Linked DNA regions of Homo sapiens: region 1 is reported to be linked to region 2. Evidence: microRNA targets listed by miRTarBase, many of them from high-throughput screens and not tested one by one. Region 2 holds a microRNA gene; the other region holds the end of a gene's coding sequence.
Evidence for each region. Region 2 holds the annotated microRNA hsa-miR-6820-5p (UGCGGCAGAGCUGGGGUCA, at 966-984, shown strand). A microRNA usually pairs through its seed, bases 2 to 8, with sites in the 3' UTR of a target mRNA and lowers its output. Matches are read on the target gene's strand: a 7mer-m8 pairs with bases 2 to 8, a 7mer-A1 pairs with bases 2 to 7 and ends in A, and an 8mer does both.

Region 1 (3,394 bases), not on the chromosome of region 2:
TGCAGTGTGGATGGCCACACTGCACTGATTCACTCCCCGGCTGGACATGGGTCATTGCCACATTTGGCTGCTGTGCACGTCCGTGAGCACATTTGTGTGGACGGACGTGTTCACTTACCTTGGGGACACGTCTAGGGCTGGCATTGCAGGTCCCACGCTAACTCCACATTTAGCCTCAACTGTTTCCAAGGGGCTGCACCACGTTATCTTCCCCAGCCATGTGGACTGCAGCTTCCCTGACCCTCGCTGCTGTTTTTGATGCTAGCTGTCCTGGTGGGGGTGACAGGTATCTCACCGTGCATTTGACTCACATCCCTAACATCTCTTCATGTGCTCATTGGTTGTCTGTATATATATTTTTTTGAGACGGAGTCTCGCTCTGTCGCCCAGGCTGGAGTGCAGTGGCGTGATCTCAGCTCACTGCAACCTCCGCCTCCTGGGTTCAAGCAATTCTCCTGCCTCAGCCTCCCGAGTAGCTGGGACTACAGGCGCCCGCCACCACGCCCAGCTTTTTGTATTTTTAGTAGAGATGGGGTTTCACTGTGTTAGCCAGGATGGTCTCGATCTCCTGACCTCAGGTGATCCACCCGCCTCGGCCTCCCAAAGTGCTGGGATTACAAGCGTGAGCCACTGCACCCGGCCCTTTTTTTTCACCTTACAAAAGCAAAACATTTGTGTATCGTCTTGGCCACCCAGAGACATGGACGATCCTGGGACCTGAATTCCATGTACAGCCCAAGTCCCTTCTCCCATTCTCCCAGCGTGGTGGACACCAGGCCCAGGCAGTACAGTACACAGTAAAACTGGCCTCATTCAGGTCGGGCATGGTGGCTCATGCCTGTAATCCTAGCACTTTGGGAGGCTGAGGCAGGAGGATCACTTGAGGCCCAGAGTTCAAGACCAGCTTGGGCAACACAGCAAGACTCCCTGTCTCTATTAAAAATAAGTAAATAAATAAAAATCTGCCTCATTTGACCACGAGCAGCACCTTTTGAATTCTGAAGCTGAGGCAATAACCAAGAAAGAGAGATGTGGGTGAGGCTGAGTTTCTGTCCTTCCCCCAACTCCGCCCCCCGACTACAGGGTACACACTTAAGAGACACAGGGCACAGAAAAGCGGACGCCTGGATGGCTTCACCTCGACCTTTTTTATTTGCATTTTTTAAAAACAATTAAATTAGAATACAAATATTAGAAAACAGCGGCCTTCAGCTGCCCGTGCGGGCGGGAGGGGCCGAGCTGCGCAGCGGGCTGCGGGCTCTGCAGTGAGACTGAACTGCCCTCGGCCAGATGCACGTCCCTTTCTTTAGACCTGAAATGATATTGCTTCCTGACTAGGAGTTCTGTTTATACAAAGGAAAATTCTGGGCTGGGGAGGACAAAAGCAAAACAGACCGCAGGCAGCGGTGTTGGAGAACCAGGTGAGGCCGGTGCCCCGCCTGCGCCCCGGTCTCCTGCGGGGCAAGGGGGGTGCCCAGCTGTGGGCTCCTGAAGGCAGAGCCCTGGTAGCTCCCCCAGTTGTTGGACCCTGAGGCCAAGGGCATGGGTGGGGCCTGCGAGGGGCCGGGAACGCCTGGGGACAGGAAGGAGGCCCCTGGTCTGGTCCTGCTGGAAGAGTGAGGCTCCCGGGGGACAGGGTGCCGGGCCAGCCTCGTACCCGTCGGAAAACCAAGAGCAAAAAGGAGAGGAATCAACCCAAACCGAGAGCCGGGGTGGCCGGGGTCCCTGCTGCCCCTTGGGAAGCGACCGCAACCCATGCCCCAAGGACCGGGGTATGGTGGCGGCGGCGGCGGCGGCAGCTGTGGACATCTGTGGACATCTGTGCTGTTCCGTAGGGAAGTTAACCTGAATTGGAATTACCGAGGTAGCTGGCTAGAAAACTGAGACCCCCCCACGCCACACGGTGCCGCACCCTGGGCCCCCGCCTTCCCCGGGGGTTCCTGACCACACGCCGGGTCTTCAAAATACCAAATTATTGCACTTTCAAAAAATACAACACATCTGTGGCTAAACCCTCCCCAGCCGCCCACTGTACCCCCATCCTGCCCACCCATCCCCCCACCCTACTGCCCCTCCCCGCCCCAACCCACTCCATGGCTTCTCGGCTAAAACGCTCGCTGCTCGGCGCGTGAGGGTCTCTGGGCGAGGATGCATTTGCAGAGAAAAAGCAAAGGAAGAGACAAACGTCAAAGTGGTCGCCAGAGAGGGGCTGCGCCCCACCGCCCGCCGCCCGGGTCCCCGCGCACTGGCTGGAATGGTCGTGGGCAGAGGGCGGCGGGCGGCGGGGCATCCGGAGGGGAGGGCGCGGGGCGGCGTCCTGGTCCCTCCCGCCCACTACCCCTTCCCGGCTCGGACTCCAGCCGGGGAGGCGGCTGTGTGGGTGGCCGGCCTTGTTTTTAAGAGTTTGACTTTTTTGTTTCATTTTTCTTTTTTGTATCTTTTTTTGTCATTTTACTTTTTTTTTTAATCCCCCGATAGGAGAGTCCAGAGGTACAGGTGCCAGGAGCCAGGCAAAAGGGTGGAAAAACAAAACGAACGACAATAAAAAGAAAAAGAAAGGTCACTCCTCCCTCTGCGCCCGAGGCTGGCCCGTGCCCCTCTGCGTGGTGAGCACCAGGAAAGTCGAGTGTGCGGCCGGGGTCAGCAGGCCGGCACCAGGCCCTTCTGGAAGGGGCAGCGGCGCTTGGGCCGGGGCCCCTCTTCGTCCTCGTCTTCCTCCTCCTCTTCCTCCTCCTCCTCATCCTCCGAGGACGATGAGCTGTCCAGCGTGAGGTCCACCACATCGGCGCCCGGCTTCCCATTCTCCATGCTGCCCACCGGGCCGCCGCCACCCGTGCTGCCCAGGGCACCGCTCCCGTTGACGCTGGGGGCGGGCAGGAGCCCATTGGCGTCCGAGGGGCCTACGGGCAACAGGGACAGGGTGCAGGTACTTAGGATGCAACCACTGATAAATGGGGAAACTGAGGCGGCCCTGGCTGCGGACTGCGCGGCTGGTGGGGTGAGGCACTCACCCAGCACGAGGATGGCGCCCTGCGGGCTGCAGCTGCGCTCCTTTTCGGCGCGGATCGGGCACCACGAGCCGTCCACCAGGTACTCGATCTCGTCGGCGTCCTCACACTCGCTCAGGATCTTCGAGAGGAGCCTGGGGCGAGGCGGACAGCTGACGCCGGGGCTGGAGGTGCCCCACCCCCCCAACTCCCCAGCCCTCCATCCCTCCCGGATGCAGCCAGGCACTCCCCACTTCTCTCTGCAAGAGCAGCCTCACCACCCCGACCGCAGGGGTCCAGGGACCCCGCATTCCCTCCCCCGCCCTCAGGCCCCTGCAGGTGCTGAGCCCCAGGCAGGTCTGCAGTGCACGGCACTGCCGGGGGGACGGGGCATGGACACACATACC
Region 2 (3,394 bases):
ATTTCACCCATCTATACAAAAAATAAAAAAATTAGCATAGCTGGTGGTGTATGCCTGTAGTCCCAAGCAGGAGAATTGCTTGAGCCTGGGAGGTGGAGGTTGCAGTGAGCCACGATCTCCCCATTGCACTCCAGTCTGGGCAATGGGAGTGAAACCTTGTCTCCAAAAAGTAGAGAGAGAAAATAGAAATTGAAATGAGGTGCACTGGGCACTGAGGCAAGGCTCTGGGGTTGGAGCAGTTAGAATGGTGTGCCTTTGCACATGTCTCCCTTTCCACCAGGACATTCTGCTGTGGCCGCTGGACTCCGGAGTCTGTGATAGGCCTCTGCCAGGGAAGATCTCTGGCAGTGCCCCTACACACCACTCCCTACTGTGCCTGCCTACCTAGAAGATGACGTTTCTAGGTGGGGACCAGGATGCCGTTCCACCCTCACTGCCTGTTGGGCCCTTCTCCCTGGGTTTGTAGTCTCCCTAACACCTGTCCCTATCCCTACAGGATGTGTGCCCCTGTGATGGTGGAGCTGGAGGGGGAGACAGATCCTCTGCTCATTGCCATGAAGGAACTCAAGTAAGTCACTCAAATCATGGTTCACTTCTCCAAATCTCTGGGAGGCATCTGTTGGGCTCTCTGTTGCACCCTTTGCTCCCACTTGCCTGGCTGGAGAAGTTGATGCTTATTCCTACAGATCCTTAGGAACAGCTCACCAGGAAGTAGGAGGAAGAGAGAAGAGGAGGCAGGGAAAGTGGGAGGGCACTGATGAGACATGGACGTCTTCTGGCTGTTGGAATTTCCCTGTTCCTGCTGCAGGAGGCCTTACCAATATTCTGTCATTCTTCCCCCTCTTGTCTGATATAAAAACTTTCTTTTTCTTGTAATTGCTTTCTTACAAAGTACACTCATCAGCCCCAAGAGGCTGCTCCTAAGACTTCTCTTTGCTTGTGTTTTGCACACAATCTGTTCCTTCTGCGGCAGAGCTGGGGTCACCAGCCCTCATGTACTTGTGACTTCTCCCCTGCCACAGGGCCCGAAAGATCCCCATCATCATTCGCCGTTACCTGCCAGATGGGAGCTATGAAGACTGGGGGGTGGACGAGCTCATCATCACCGACTGAGCTGGAGTCATCTTCCTGCCCTTGCCCCATGCCCAATTTTCATTCTCACTTTATATGTGTAAATAATAAAATATTCAACTTTCCAACCCCCTTCCCCTCTGCTTATCTGCAATGTCACCACCTGTTGCTTCCCCGTTACCGCCATGCTGCGTGGAGCATGCACCTATTCCAGTGGCCCTGTGACTGTCAGCTCCTTAAGAAGCACCAGGGGCCCTTAGCCCCTTTGGATCCCCCACATCCTTCCCTCCATCTCCCTGTTCCCCAGAGCAAAGGCTGCTGCAGGGGAGACACCTCAGCTGCCTTCCAAGCAGACAGACAAGTCTTTGTGCCCAGGGAGCTGGTTGCCACGGAAACCCCCAATTTCCTTTCCAGTGGGGACTGGCTGCAGGGGCTTCTCCCTTCTCAGGAGTATCACAGAGCAGGTCTCATCAAGCCACCCATTGTTTCCTAAGGACCTGCTTCGAGCCTCTTATCGTGGGCTCGGATCCCCTTTCAGGAGCAGTGCCCCAGCAGGAAGCGTGGGGGTGTGCTGATCTCCCACCCTCCCCAGGCAGAGCCCTGCTGGGCAAGTCAGCAGCTGGAGCAAGGACCGAGCACCTGCCTACCCCTGCCCCCATGGCTCTGTCCCCACTCCTCCTCAGGACTCTGCCCACACGCTGTCCTCTGTGGCCCACCTCTTTGGTGTGCCACACCCATGCCTTCTTCCTAGCCTCTATAAGATATCCTTTCCCTCCTATTTGGGGCTGGTGATCCCCTGAGGCCTTGGGGACATGGTGCTGGGGTGGTGGTGCTCCTGGGTTCCAGGTGTTACATTAAGTCAGAGCTGGAGTTCCCCCTTCCTCTGCCTGAGGTTCTAATGGGTCCTCTTCCTTTCTCCACCCTGCTTACCCAACCTGAGGTAAGACCAGTCACACTGGCTCCTCCCTCCTAGAGGGGGTCAGGGGGAGGGTGTATATTGACATGAACAGGGATAGAGGGTAAACTGGCTCCCTGAATATGCCAGCCTTAACCTCCATTCCACTGCCAGCTCCCCTTCAAAGAGGAGGAGCTGGGCTTCCCTAACCTCTGCAGGAGGCAGGGCCTCCAGGCCTAGGTGCAGCCTGGCCCTGGGATGGGATGTGGGGAGTGAATGGTGAGGATCTGCATTGGTGGGAGGGGTGTCCGCTGCCCTGGAGAAGGGTTAATTCAGGGAGCAGTGGACTTCACACTCCCATCCACCCTCCTCCAAGCCTGTGGAATCCTTTAATCAAGTTGGGTGCTGAAATTTCAGCTCTGAAATGCCGCCTTTGTGCTGGCATCCAGGCAGCCGCCCCAGAGTGCGGGGGTCACTTTCTCGGCCCCATTTCTCTAAATGGTCTCTTTGTTCCCTGCTGGGCTGCTCAGTATCAGATGTGATTAAAGGGAGATGGGGTTTGGGCTGGGGAGGAGGGGAATTGGGGGTTAACCCTTAGGGGATAGAGTGCAAGGGAAATGGGACAGAAGGGGTGTTTTTCCTCCTGTCTTCCTCTTCCCATTCTCCTCTTTTGGGGAGTCCCCTGCTATTCAGCTGTCTGGGCCTGGCTTTTGACTTCTCTTGAATAAAATGTCCCGGTCACCACTATTGGTTCTGTTTTCTTAGGGTTTGGGCATAGTCTCTTGAGTCATTTCCAGAAACACCTGACCCTTTTTTAACAAGTGGAGCTCCTGCCTTCCTGAGGCCTGTGCACACTTGGAACCTTTGGTCTAAGGGATGCACACAACCCAGGTCTTCTGACTTCCTTGGGGTCATTTCCCCTCCTTCCACATCCTCAGTGATTTCCCACTCACTCTCATGAGATGTGGGGTCTTGGAGGTGATAGTGTCATCTTCCGGATGTGCCCCCTGCTCCCCACTGTGCCAGCTCCATATCCCTCATCCCACGGCGAGCAGGAGTAGTGAACAGACCACAAATGGACAAAAGTCCTGCCTTTCAATGAAGGGGAAAGGGTGGGTTGTAAAGATTATAAACACATAAGGTTAGTACTGATTGATCCATGACAAAATTCTAGAATAGGTCCCTCCATGTTTAAAAGTGCTTATATAATAAAGAGGAGATCGGGCACTAGCATAGGGTGTCTAAGAACCAATATTGCCAAATAAGTTTTTTTTTCGATGGTTACTGGTCCAGTAGGTTGAGAGAATGCCAGAGATCAGTGAATCTTGATTTTGACAAGGCATCAGTAGTCTCCATGCCACTGTGACAGAGAAGTGTGTGCTTCATGGTGATGTAATTAGACAGTTTTAGAACTGATTAGACAGCCTC

Region 1: the mRNA of PIAS4 is a reported target of hsa-miR-6820-5p. Seed matches in the 3' UTR shown: 7mer-m8 at 1,793-1,799.

What each region holds. Positions count from the first base shown.
Region 1 is chr19:4,037,122-4,040,515 of GRCh38, reverse strand. PIAS4 (protein inhibitor of activated STAT 4) reads right to left here. Exons shown (of 11, transcript NM_015897.4): 10 at 3,012-3,142; 11 at 1,130-2,900. The coding sequence ends at 2,641. Among named protein-coding and RNA genes, the nearest start is that of ZBTB7A, 28 kb to the left of the region's middle.
Region 2 is chr22:37,966,603-37,969,996 of GRCh38, forward strand. It overlaps MIR6820 (microRNA 6820), which reads left to right and starts at 961; the gene lies at 961-1,022. It overlaps POLR2F (RNA polymerase II, I and III subunit F), which reads left to right. Exons shown (of 5, transcript NM_021974.5): 4 at 497-568; 5 at 1,023-2,710. The coding sequence ends at 1,113. RefSeq lists enhancers at 1,037-1,537, 1,920-2,214.